Homo sapiens: one gene and its partners. The protein of the gene in region 3 interacts with the protein of the main gene of each other region in a pairwise test. Each region holds a gene or a part of one and is shown on either strand. Other genes may lie near its edges.

What was found.
Region 1: the proteins of NCF2 (region 3) and GNAI2 interact in binary tests that used the Homo sapiens proteins (3 or more experiments, as listed by UniProt).
Region 2: the proteins of NCF2 (region 3) and KIFAP3 interact in binary tests that used the Homo sapiens proteins (3 or more experiments, as listed by UniProt).

What each region holds. Positions count from the first base shown.
Region 1 is NC_000003.12:50,239,136-50,242,883, reverse strand, and holds part of GNAI2 (guanine nucleotide-binding protein G(i) subunit alpha-2), read right to left. Parts: intron 1-3,748. UniProt on the Homo sapiens protein: Guanine nucleotide-binding proteins (G proteins) are involved as modulators or transducers in various transmembrane signaling systems.
Region 2 is NC_000001.11:170,073,203-170,076,950, forward strand, and holds the start of KIFAP3 (kinesin-associated protein 3), read right to left. Parts: upstream 1,494-3,748; 5' UTR 1,266-1,493; coding exon 1,234-1,265; intron 1-1,233. UniProt on the Homo sapiens protein: Involved in tethering the chromosomes to the spindle pole and in chromosome movement. Binds to the tail domain of the KIF3A/KIF3B heterodimer to form a heterotrimeric KIF3 complex and may regulate the membrane binding of this complex.
Region 3 is NC_000001.11:183,569,761-183,573,508, forward strand, and holds part of NCF2 (neutrophil cytosol factor 2), read right to left. Parts: intron 3,533-3,748; coding exon 3,425-3,532; intron 1,080-3,424; coding exon 1,020-1,079; intron 1-1,019. UniProt on the Homo sapiens protein: Subunit of the phagocyte NADPH oxidase complex that mediates the transfer of electrons from cytosolic NADPH to O2 to produce the superoxide anion (O2(-)).

The DNA of each region.
Region 1 (3,748 bases), on a different chromosome or scaffold from region 3:
TCCTTTGCATATCCTGAGGCTGTCAGCAGCCTTGGAGCCCCCAGATTCCTCCAAGCCATAAGGATATCTTCTCCCCAACAAGGCTGAGATGACCCCACCTTTAGGCCTTTGCTCAGACTGGTGTGGTGCTGCCTTTCAAGCCTTGTAAATGTGCACAGAGGCCGGCACAGAAGAACCAGCCCAGCAAATGTTTGGTTATTCCAGAAAGATTCTTCCTCCCCAGCCACCAAGAGCAGCCACAGCCCCAAGAAGTAACATCAGGGTGAGGGTGGGGTTGGGGTTTAGTAAGAACGAGAGCTTCAAGCTAGAAGGGCTGGGTGGGGCTGGGCAGACGGGGTTCCACCCTGCACCTGTAGCTGAGGGAAGGGCTGCCTGAGAGCATCAGGTACCAGGGACACCATCAAAGGGCCCAATCCTTTGCCTTCCCCAAAGCACCTTGCAGAGCACTCTTAGGCAGGGTGTATCAGCAGTGGCCTGGCCAGAACCTGCTGACCCCTTCCCCTCCTCGCTCAACTCCTAGGCTGGGATTCCTGGCCTGAGATGCTGGGAAGATGAGACTACTCCCTGGCCTGTACCTTGCCCCCATCTGCCCGGTCCTGCCTCCCCCCACAGCACAACGGGATGTAGGGGAGGCAGCACTCAGGCTCTGGGGTGACAGTCTCCTCCTCTGCTGTGGGTGGGGTGGGGGGAGTCCCTGGTTCCTCAGTGGCTAAGAGCTTGGGTGGACAAAGCTTCCTCCATCCTGTTCCCGCCAAGTGAATGGGTGGCTTTTAGAGACAGACTGAGAGAGTCACAGCCAGGGACCAAGAACTAAGATCAACGGCAGAGTATACAGGACCTGTGTGTCTGCCTGTGGCCCAAGTAGCCCCAAGTGCACCTACTGCCCCACCCCCTGCAGTGCTGGAGGCCTAGGGACCTTGCTGGGACCTGACCACACCCCACCCTCAGCACTACCTGCTGCCACTTGCCAGGCAAACTGATGTTCAAGGGCCTGGGACATCAGTGATGGCACTCAGTGACCCTACCTCTCAGGCCACCCAGGGCCAACCGCTGACAAGCTGCCCAGGGCCAAAGGGGTCCCGGACCATCCCCAGGCCCCATCCAGCAGCCTAGGCTCTGACACATAGTGGGTGGTGTGATGCTGCCTCAGGGCTTCTGACATGGAAGCCTGTGTCCCGCAACTGGTTTGACTTCCACCTCCTGCCACAGCAGCGCGGCTCATTCTCTCTGTCCTCACACCTGCTCTGCCCTCTGTCTGGGGTTCCTCTCCCCAACCCGCCTGGGATGCCCCCAGCTGAGCTCCAGCTGCCCTGATTCACCTAGTCTCTCAGCTCAGAGGTATCCCTTAAAGGACCTAGTCTCACTCCTACCCTAGAGGTATGACCTCATGTTGGCTGCACTGACACTGGCGTGAGAGGCAGGGGCTGAGCCTAGCAGAACTGGGCAGGATGCAGGCAGAGGGGGTCAGCTATAGCTTGGACCCCTGTTCACTCCTTAGTGTGGGAGCTCTATCCCTGCCTGCTCCTGCAGACAAAGCCCCGACAAGCCTGGGGGAGGGGTGGGAAGAAGAGACTCAGAGGCCCAAGCCGCCCCGCCCCCCATTCAAGTGCTAATGAGCTCCAGCAGTGAAGGAGAGGGCTGGGGTAGAGTGTAGGGGCTGGAGGCCAGCCTGGGTGGGTACTGGCCCACCTGGCACCCAGGGCCCTACCACATCTCCAAACCTAGACCCCCAGAGGTTGGGCCTAAGGTCCCCAGGGCAGTCTGTCACTCCTGCTGGCACCAACTATCTGCACGCCTTGGGCTCCCCACTTGCTGTGAACAGCTGCCTGAGGGCAGGGGAGGGGGTTCCCTAGGGCTCCAAACCCAGGCCAGGCAGCCTCTAGGATGGGAGACTCCTTCCCACCAAACTCTCAGCAGTGGGTCCCTCATCCATTTTCTTTTTTTTTCTTTTTTTTTTTTTTTTTTGAGACAGAGTCTTGCTCTGTCCCCCAGGCTGGAGTGCAGTGGCACCATCTCGGTCCACTGTAACCTTCACTTCCCAGGTTCAAGCGATTCTCGTGCCTCAGCCTCCCGAATAGCTGGGATTACAGGCACATACCACCATACCTGGCTAATTTTTTTGTATTTTTAGTAGAGACGGGGTTTCACCATGTTGGCCAGGCTGGTCTTGAACTCCTGACCTCAGGTGATCTGCCTGCCTCAACCTCCCAAAGTGCTGGGATTATAGGTGTGAGCCACCGCGCCTGGCCTCCCTCACCCATTTTTCATACCTCCAAGCTTTGGTAGACTGTCCCCATAACCTGTGGCTGCAGGGAGGCACTCTGCCCCCAGGTTATGAGTGGAGAGCAGGACTCCTGCCAGGGCTTCACCTGATGCTGAGTCTCTCAGCCAGTGCCATAGGTGGAACTGGGATTCGAACTCAGGTCTGGATGACCCCATGGGCTGGTCCAGGGAGGGTGGCCCTTTCCCCACCAGGCCAGGAAACACCCACCCAAGCTCTTGGGAATACAGGCCAAGTCTTCCTGCTGCAGTGTTCTTGTCGAGTTGGTCCCTCTGACCCCCAGTGCCTGGCCCTGGCAAATGGTATTCATCCTTCACAGCTGCCCAGCAGACCCCCTCCTCCAGGAAGCCCCCCTTCACAGGCACCATTAGAGTCTAACTCACTACCCAGCCAGCCAGAATCCCAAGCTAACCCTTCCTATCTGTCTCTAGCTAGACCAGGCTCCAGTGGCTGCCCCAGGATTATACTTACTCCTCTCCCAGGAGCTCTGCCCTGTTCATGGACATGTTCAATCACTTCATTCTGTCCATATACCCTCATTAGGCATCTATAGTATGCCAGCCCTTTGCAAGAGACACAGACAGGACAGAGGCCACAAAACCCCCTTTCTTTTCTTTTGGTAAACTTCATTGAGCCCTTGCTATGTGCAGTCTCTGCACTGGCCAGTACCAGGACTCTCACAGCATTGCTCTGGTCTGAGCCCCAGGGCTGCGGAGCAGCCCCTGCTGGACCAGCCAGCTCAAGCTCGACTGTGGCTACTGCAGTGTCAGAGACAGCAGCCCTCTAGCAGTGCACCAACAGCCTGAGTTGGAAGGAAGAATACAAAGCCACTCTGCTCAGCAGGAGTTCCGCACAGGGTGGGATAAGAACTCTCTCAGGTGCCAGCATAGCCTGTGGCGGGGCTGGGAAGAAACAGCCTGAAGAACTTTTCTCAGTGTCCCCTCAATGCTGGTCACCAATCCTGTGGTGGGCCTGTGGGCCCTTGCCACCTGCCCACAGTATGCAAACTGCCGCTCAGTTTACTCCACCATCTACCCAAAATCAGGTTCAGAGGATACTTCCTTCATTCAACAAACAGATGAGAAGCACCCAGTAGATGCCAGGCTCCATGCTGGGCACAGAAATGAAGAGGACTTAGCCCTGCCCTGCAGTCTCCAGGCATCTGAGGGGGGAAGCAACAGCGCTGGGAGCCAGATGTTTCACCAGCCTTGGTCGAGGGAGGATGTCCAGGAAGGATCCTGGGAGGTGATCCCAGAGTAAAGTTTTAAAGAACAATCAAGTAGGGAACAACACACACAAAGTTCCAGGGGCAAGAGAGAACTGCTCTGTTTACATTCTGAAGCCTTTATGGAGCCAATGGTGGACACTGTCTCCTTTTTTTGTGAAGCTGTCCACACAGGCCCATCCCAAATCAGAGACTCTCCCCCCTCACATACACTCTGGCTTCCTTTCCCTTAAGAGCCCAGA
Region 2 (3,748 bases), about 13 Mb from region 3:
TTAAGTAAAATTCAGTGAGGAAATAAACACTGATGTAGGCTTATATATTCATTTAAAAATTTTTACTGACAAAGTCTGGCTATTTGCCAGTTTCAGATATATTTACATAAAATAAAAAAGACAGTCAATATATGCCTGTCTTGCCAGGACAATAGAGTTGATTTATTTATTATACAATTGTTTGAATCCCTTCTATGAGTCTACTAACACTTGGAAGATCTTTCTGTGATGATGAGAGCTCAGCCAAGCCAGAATAAAAATATTCACTGCAAGTGTATTATGACTTGAAATAATACCACCACCTTACATTCATGTTTCATTTTTTAAAAGTATTTCATCTTTCGTCCTTGTATCTCTCAGAAGGTAACGCCTGTCCCATTTTCAGATGAGGAAACCGTGCCCAAAGGAATACATGCGACTTTTCCAGGGTATTTACTGAATCAGTACTGAATTAAAATTTTTTTCTATTGGATCACTGCTTACTCTTGGTTCAGTGGGAGGTATCTTTTTTTTTTTCCAAATCAGGAATGATCTGAGTATTTGCCAGCACCCAAATAATCCCAACAGACTACAATTTTTTTGAGTAACTGATACTATATTTAAAAGAAATTATGGCCTATTTTATTGTCATCAAACTTCTGAACAAACCTCTTAATAATTACTAAATGTCCTACAAAAATTATGTTGTATACATGGGAGTCAAATGGATGACATGGATGCGGAAAGCAGAAAGAGACTGGAAATCAACATCTCAATTCAGCCTTCCAAAAAGTAGAATCCACCACTTCTTTCCCCTTCATCATTTCAAAAGCCCATGGCAATGAACCCCAAACTGAGGCCTGAGGGCGGATGCACCAGACTTTATTCCCAGGCTCTCATGGGATTTATCTATTATGGGAAAATGGAGAGTCTGGGAAGAGGCGAAAAAAAAAACAAAAGACGCGGTTTACCTTGCCCTACCTCCCTCTCCCCCTGGAATAAGGTGATGTAGCGAAGAAACCATCTTTCAATGCTGTCAGGGCTCCGCCGAGTCAGGTCAAAGGACTTTGAAACCCCCCCAGAGCTCTCCTTTTTTCTCCACTTCACCTTTTCCCTCTCCTTTCGGTGACTTCTCTCCCTGCTTCCCATCCCGTCTGCTAAACTAGCGTTGCCCAGTGACATCTCACAGCCAACCCAAGAACATCTTCAGGGCCCTGGCAAGGAGGGTAGGACAGAGCCTTGGGGAGTCGTCACCTTTTGAGGTATCTGGCGTCCTCCCCTTGCATGGCGGCAGCGGCAGCGGCGTGGAGAGGATGGGGTATCTTGAGAGGCAGGCGCGGTTATTTCCGGGGACGGTGGCCAAAGTACCCTCACACCCAGAGGCGATGACAGTCCTGAGGCCTGCAAGGCGGGGCAGCAGCGGCGCTGTGGTTACCACGGTGAAGCCTCCAGCTCCTCCCACAGCTTCTGTGCCCCAAAACACTGGAGCGGCCCAGACCCGCCCAGAGTCGCCTAAGCCGGGCCGTCACGACGCATGCGCTTGCTCTGCACCTCTTGTATGCGCAGGCTCAGTCTGAGGCGGTGGCCTCAGAGTTTGACGCACCGGGGAGCCGAGCAGGGAAGTTTTGGTGCAGTTTTGAGCGTCCGTGTATAAGGAGTGGCTCCGTAGTCACCGCCCCCTTGAGGATGGGAATAGAAAGGGCTGTCAGGTCAGCTTGAAAGGAGAGAGGGGAATCCGATAACCTTTTAGTTAGCGAATGCTATACAGCAGTCCAGCTAATAAGGGAGGTTTCTATTTGGGGGCCTGAATGGCCCTGATTGCACTTACAAGCTCTAACTTATGGAGATAATCTGACCGTTGTACAAAATGGATATAACTTTGAAGGCGGCAAGTCTGTCACTTTGATGTCTTAAATCTAGAATACACCTCCCCCAACCAAAACAAACAAACAAACAAACAAACAACAGCAACAAAAAACAGTTCCTGAAATTCCAACTCCACCAATTATCCTGAACTCAAGGTATGTTTAGAATTGCTTCTTCTGAGGCAGGCAATTGTTAGCAGTGCAGGGCATAGGAAAGAAGGGTTCTTTTTTAACTGCATGTTCTCTGGTTTAAGATCTATTCCCATGGGTTCAGCTATTATGTCTATGCAAATGATATAGGTTCATTTATTTGGTAAATGTGAATTGAGGGCTGGCTGTGTGCCAAACACCAAACCAGGCTCTAGGGATGCAAAGAAAGCACCTCTACTCCCCCTGCTCACCTATAATCTTGTCACTTATTCACTGTCTTCTAGTCCTGTTTTCCCAGTTGCTTTGAGACGTGCACGTAGTTGCTCTGCTGCTTTTTTCAAATGTAGTACATTGATGCAATTATTGATTATCCGTTATGTGTAAAACACCATGTTAAGGCACTGCATGGTATATTAAATATAGAAATACAGTCCTTACCCAACAAAATATATTTTTATCTTCCCACCCATTCACACCAGCTACACTATTTCTGTAGATGTTATAGTCATTCTTTCATTCTGAAAGGGAAGAAAATTTGCAGCTAATTTTGACTCCTTCCTCTGTATCATGCCCTCTTACTAAAGTGTTACAAAATTCTATCTTTTCTTCCTTCAAGATATTCAGGTAGTCCAGTTTTTTTCTACATTCTTACTTCTACCAATAGTCTAATCACTTTATACCTAGAGTACTGCAATTCCTTCCTCATTGGACTTCCTATTTTTTGTTTTTCTAAATATTAATTCTGCAAACTAATGTAAAATTTTACAAATTATCATTTATAACACCTTTAATGGTAATATAGCAGGCTAGATTACTTTAAAATCTTCACAATACGTAAAATTGGAAGACCAAAATATACATTAAAATGCATAGATAATATAACAAGGATTTTTGGAATGTAAGTTAGCTCCTTGAGCTCAGAGAACTTATTTCGTTCACTTTTGCATTCAGCCCATAGTTGTCACTGAATAAAAATTTTGGTGTTGAAAAAATGCAAACCTGAGCTTGAAAAAACAATAGCAACAACAACAACAAAAAAACCTAAAGAAAATGCCCAGAGGCCAGAAAGAAAGAGAGAGCTGGAAACCAGAGCAATAAATAGATAGCTGAAACTGGGACTGAACTAGATAAACTGTCTGTCTGTGGCAGGAAAAGTACAAGATGAGCCTGGAACATTTTATGCTTGACAGTAAGGACATAGTCAGAGACTAAGAAGATAAGATTATGTAAAAAGGACACTGGTGAATTTGAGGCAATTTGGGAATCAAATGGAATTACTGGGATTGATTTAAGACATTAAATAAATAAAAAAAAGAAATCCATAATGATACTCAACAACATAGAAAAACAGGGAAAAAAGAACCCCACTTCCACTGGAGGCAACTACTGCATCAGATCTTTACTCTGAAAGCTGGTAATTAAAAGAAAGAAGGATTTAATCTAATGCTTTTGGAAATAAACCAGATTTCACCTCCTTTTAACAAGGAAAAGCTCTTCTTAACAGAAAATACCTGGTAGGAATGGAGAAAAATAATGATAGTTACTATTTTGCAAGCACCAATAAACAATGGATTCAAATAAGCCCTATTAATTTACTTTAAAATAATTTAAAGTGAGGCAAAGTTTTACCCCGCATATTTCTTTATAATTCTAAAGGAAAAGAAATGTTACTTTACAATGAGGAGATCTAGCTGTCAGCATTTTAAACAGACAAGCAAACAGCATCATTAGTGAGAGGTGAACCCAGCTGGACT
Region 3 (3,748 bases):
GTATTTTTAGTAGGGACAGGGGTTTCACCATGTTGGCCAGGCTGGTCTGGAACTCCTGGCCTCAAGTGATCTGCTCACCTCAGCCTCCCAAAATGGTGGGATTATAGGCGTGAGCCACTGTGCCTGGCCACTTCTGAGTATTTAAAATTGACACAGGATCCACTGACTGGGCAAGAATCTCCTCCCCTGTTCTACACTGAATACCATGGAATCCAGTTACCTGGGCTGCATTCCCCTCATGGCCTCTGGCTGAACTGAAGCTCAAGGGACTTCAGCAAGGCTTTCATCAGCTTTATTGTGAAGAAAGAGATCAAGGAATCTAGATCTGGAACATACCTGCCCCTGCTCAGAAAACCGCCCTCTGCTAGTGCTGACCAACACTCTTGCCCATCACAGGTTCATTGCCACAGAGTTCGTATTTTCCTTAATGTGTTTTCCCCTCTTTCCTTCACAAGGAAGCTCTGTGTGCATTTCTAGATCCACTATCATCCAGTTCATCTGAGCTCACCTCTCCAAGCCCAGCTTGGGCAGAAAAAGGGTTCACTCTCAGTGCGCTGCCTGTGTTCCCGAAGGAAACCCCTGCACATGAGCAGATGGGTAGAGCCAGGAGAGCCCAAACCTCAGGCCCAGGCCCCACAGGGTTCCCCACTTGCCCCTGTACTCAAGAAGAGGCTTTGTTAATAAGCCTTCCATAGCTTGTGTTTCAGCTTCCTGAGAGAATAGTTGAGGCTTCAGAGAGAGGATCAGCAGATCTCTTTAGAGATGTGAAGACCGGCATTTGTGGGGAAGCAGGAGAGTTAGCTTCAGAGGACTTGGGGTGAAGCCTGACACTGCCTTATTTCCTCACCAGCCATGGAAACCAGGACTGAGAGAGGGCAGGCAGATCCCTCAGCTGCACTGAGGGCCACTTGAAGGAGCCCTTACAATCAGGCAACTCAGCACACATAGTCTCTCGAATTGAATGCTTCACAGAAAGCTCTCGAGACCTAGGTCCATGGAGAAGGTCAGGACTGCCTTACCTGTGGTTGCAGAGGGGCAAACCCAGAGAAACTGTCTTGATCCACCACAGATGCCACGACCTAAAATCAAGGACAGGAGGGTGTGAGGCTCTGCCAGCACTGTTTCCATTCTTCTGGGTCTCCCTCTTTGCTCATGCCCTAGACCTGTTCTTACGTGAGCCTGGTTTCAGACGTGGACAGTAACTAAGGATTAGATTCCTGAGCCTCTGGATTAGGATTTCAGCAACTGAAGAAACGAGCATTCACCCCACCCCTGCTAACACAGGCTTGCTTTCTTCTCTCTTAAAAAAGAAATGTTTTTAATTGAGGTGCAATTTGTATAACATCAAATTATCTTTTTTTTTTTTTTTTTTTTTGAGACGGAGTCACGCTCTGTTACCCAGACTGGAGTGCAGTGGCGTGATCTCAGCTCACTGCAACCTCTGCCTTCCAGGTTCAAGTGATTCTCCTGCCTCAGCCTCCCGAGTAGCTGATATTACAGGCACCCGCCACTGTGCCCGGCTAATTTTTGTATTTTCAGTAGAGACAGGTTTTCACCATGTTGGCCAGGCTGGTCTCAAACTTCTGACCTCAGGTGATCTACCCATCCAGCCTCCCAAAGTGCTGGGATTATAGGCATGAGCCACCACGCCCAGCCCAAATTAATCATTTTAAAGTGAATGATTCAGTGGCATTTATCACATTCACAATGCTGTGCAACTACTGCCTCTCTCTAATTCCAAAATATTTTCATCACCTCAGAAGAAAATGCTGTACCCATTAAGCAGTGTGTCCACACTCCCCTTTCCCCTAAACTGGCAACAACCGGTTTGCTTTCTGTGACTGACTTGAGCCCTCTTCTCTGAGTTTTAAAAATCAGATGTAAAGCTAGCTTTATTCACAAATATGCTTAAACTATAGATAATTTTCATCATTCATTCATATAATCAAAACATTTTTGCTGAGAGCTGTTATGTGTCTAGCACTGTGCCAGGCTGTGAGGACTCAGTGGAGATCAAGCAGACATGGTCTCTGCTCTCTCAGTGCTTAGAGGCTGCACCAGATATTTCCTATAAACGGAATTGTACAACATGTGGCCTTTCGTATCTGGCTTCCTTCACATAGCATAATGTTTTCAAGGTCCATCCATGTTGTATCATGAATCATACTCCATTCCTTTTTATGGCTACGTAGTATTCTGTTGCATGGATATATCACATTTTGATTACTCATTCATCAGTTGATAGATATTTGGAGGGCTTCCACTCACCCAGGCTTTCTTGACCTCTGCTGCTATGCTAGACCCAGCTACCCGACCACTGGGCAACTTTAGCCCTATGAATGTGTCAAGTCAAATGTGGTTTTGGAAGGGCACTGCTGACTCACTTCAGACCATGTCTGAAAGAATTTAAGACTTGGATTTATTATTATTATTACTATTTTGAGATGGAGTTTCATTCTTGTTGCCCAGGCTGGAGTGCAATGGCATGATCTCAGCTCACTGCAACCTCCACCACCCGGATTCAAGCGATTCTCCTGCCTCAGCCTCCCAGGTAGCTGGGATTACAGGCATGCACCGCAGCACCCAGCTAATTTTGTATTTTTAGTAGAGATGGGGTTTCACCATGTTGGCCAGCCTGGTCTTGAACTCCTGACCTCGTGATCCACCTGCCTCAGCCTCCCAAAGTGCTGGGATTACAGGCATGAGTCACCATGCACAGCCAAGACCTGGATTTAGAAGAAGTCCAATTTAAGACATAGTCTAAACATAGGGCTGTGGAAGTGGGGAAAGACTCCTCAGCCCACTAAAACGTGAACTACAAGGAGCATTAATCCAAGAGGATCCCATGCTGATCTCTTTCCCTAACATGTTCTCTTCATATTTATTTTTATTTTTTAGAAACAGAGTCTCAATCTGTTGCCCAAGCTAGAGTACAGTGGTGCAATCATAGCTCACTGTAGCCTTGAACTCCTGGGCTCAAGTGATCCTCTCACCTCAGCCTCTCCACTAGCTAGGCTGGTCTCAAACTCCTGGCCTCAAGTGATCCTCCCACTTCAGCCTTCCAAAGCACTGGGATTACAGGCATGAGCTACCCTGCCTGGCCCTCTCTTCACATTTAGTGAGCTCCTCATGGCTGTGTTTTCCCTCCATTGGCTCAGTCCCTAAGACTCAGCATCCTGTGAGTAACCCTGTGGCTCTCACCCAGGGTCGAGCTGGAAGGGAGAAATGGGAGCAGCTTGGAGAAAATAAACTAGACATGGTTGCCTATCTTTCAGCCAAACCTCTGTCCTATAAACAAGTCTCTCATTGCCATCCCAGGGACAGAGCCACAAGGAGGCTACCCTCTTCTCAAGAGTCCCTCCCACCTTGCTCCACATGGCCCGGGCCACAGGAGACTCAGGGGAAGCTGAGCAATCCCACCTACCGTCGCCTTGCCTAGGTAATCCTTCTTGGCCAGCTGAGCCACTTGTCTCTCATTTGGTCGAAACAGCTTGCCCACAGGGATCACCACTGGCTCATATAGCTTCTGCTTCTGTAACACAGAAAACGTAGCATTCCCTTATGTGAAAATGGGGGTGACGATGCTTGTCCTGCCTCCCTCAGTGAATAGATGCAAGAATTCATTGAGATAACCACATAGAAGCCCTTTTCCAAATGAGTGTTGTCATTCCTCTAGGGTGTTAAGGTAGGAACCCTTGGTTTCAATACCACCTTCTGCTGCGAGGCCACATGGACATTGCTGCTATTT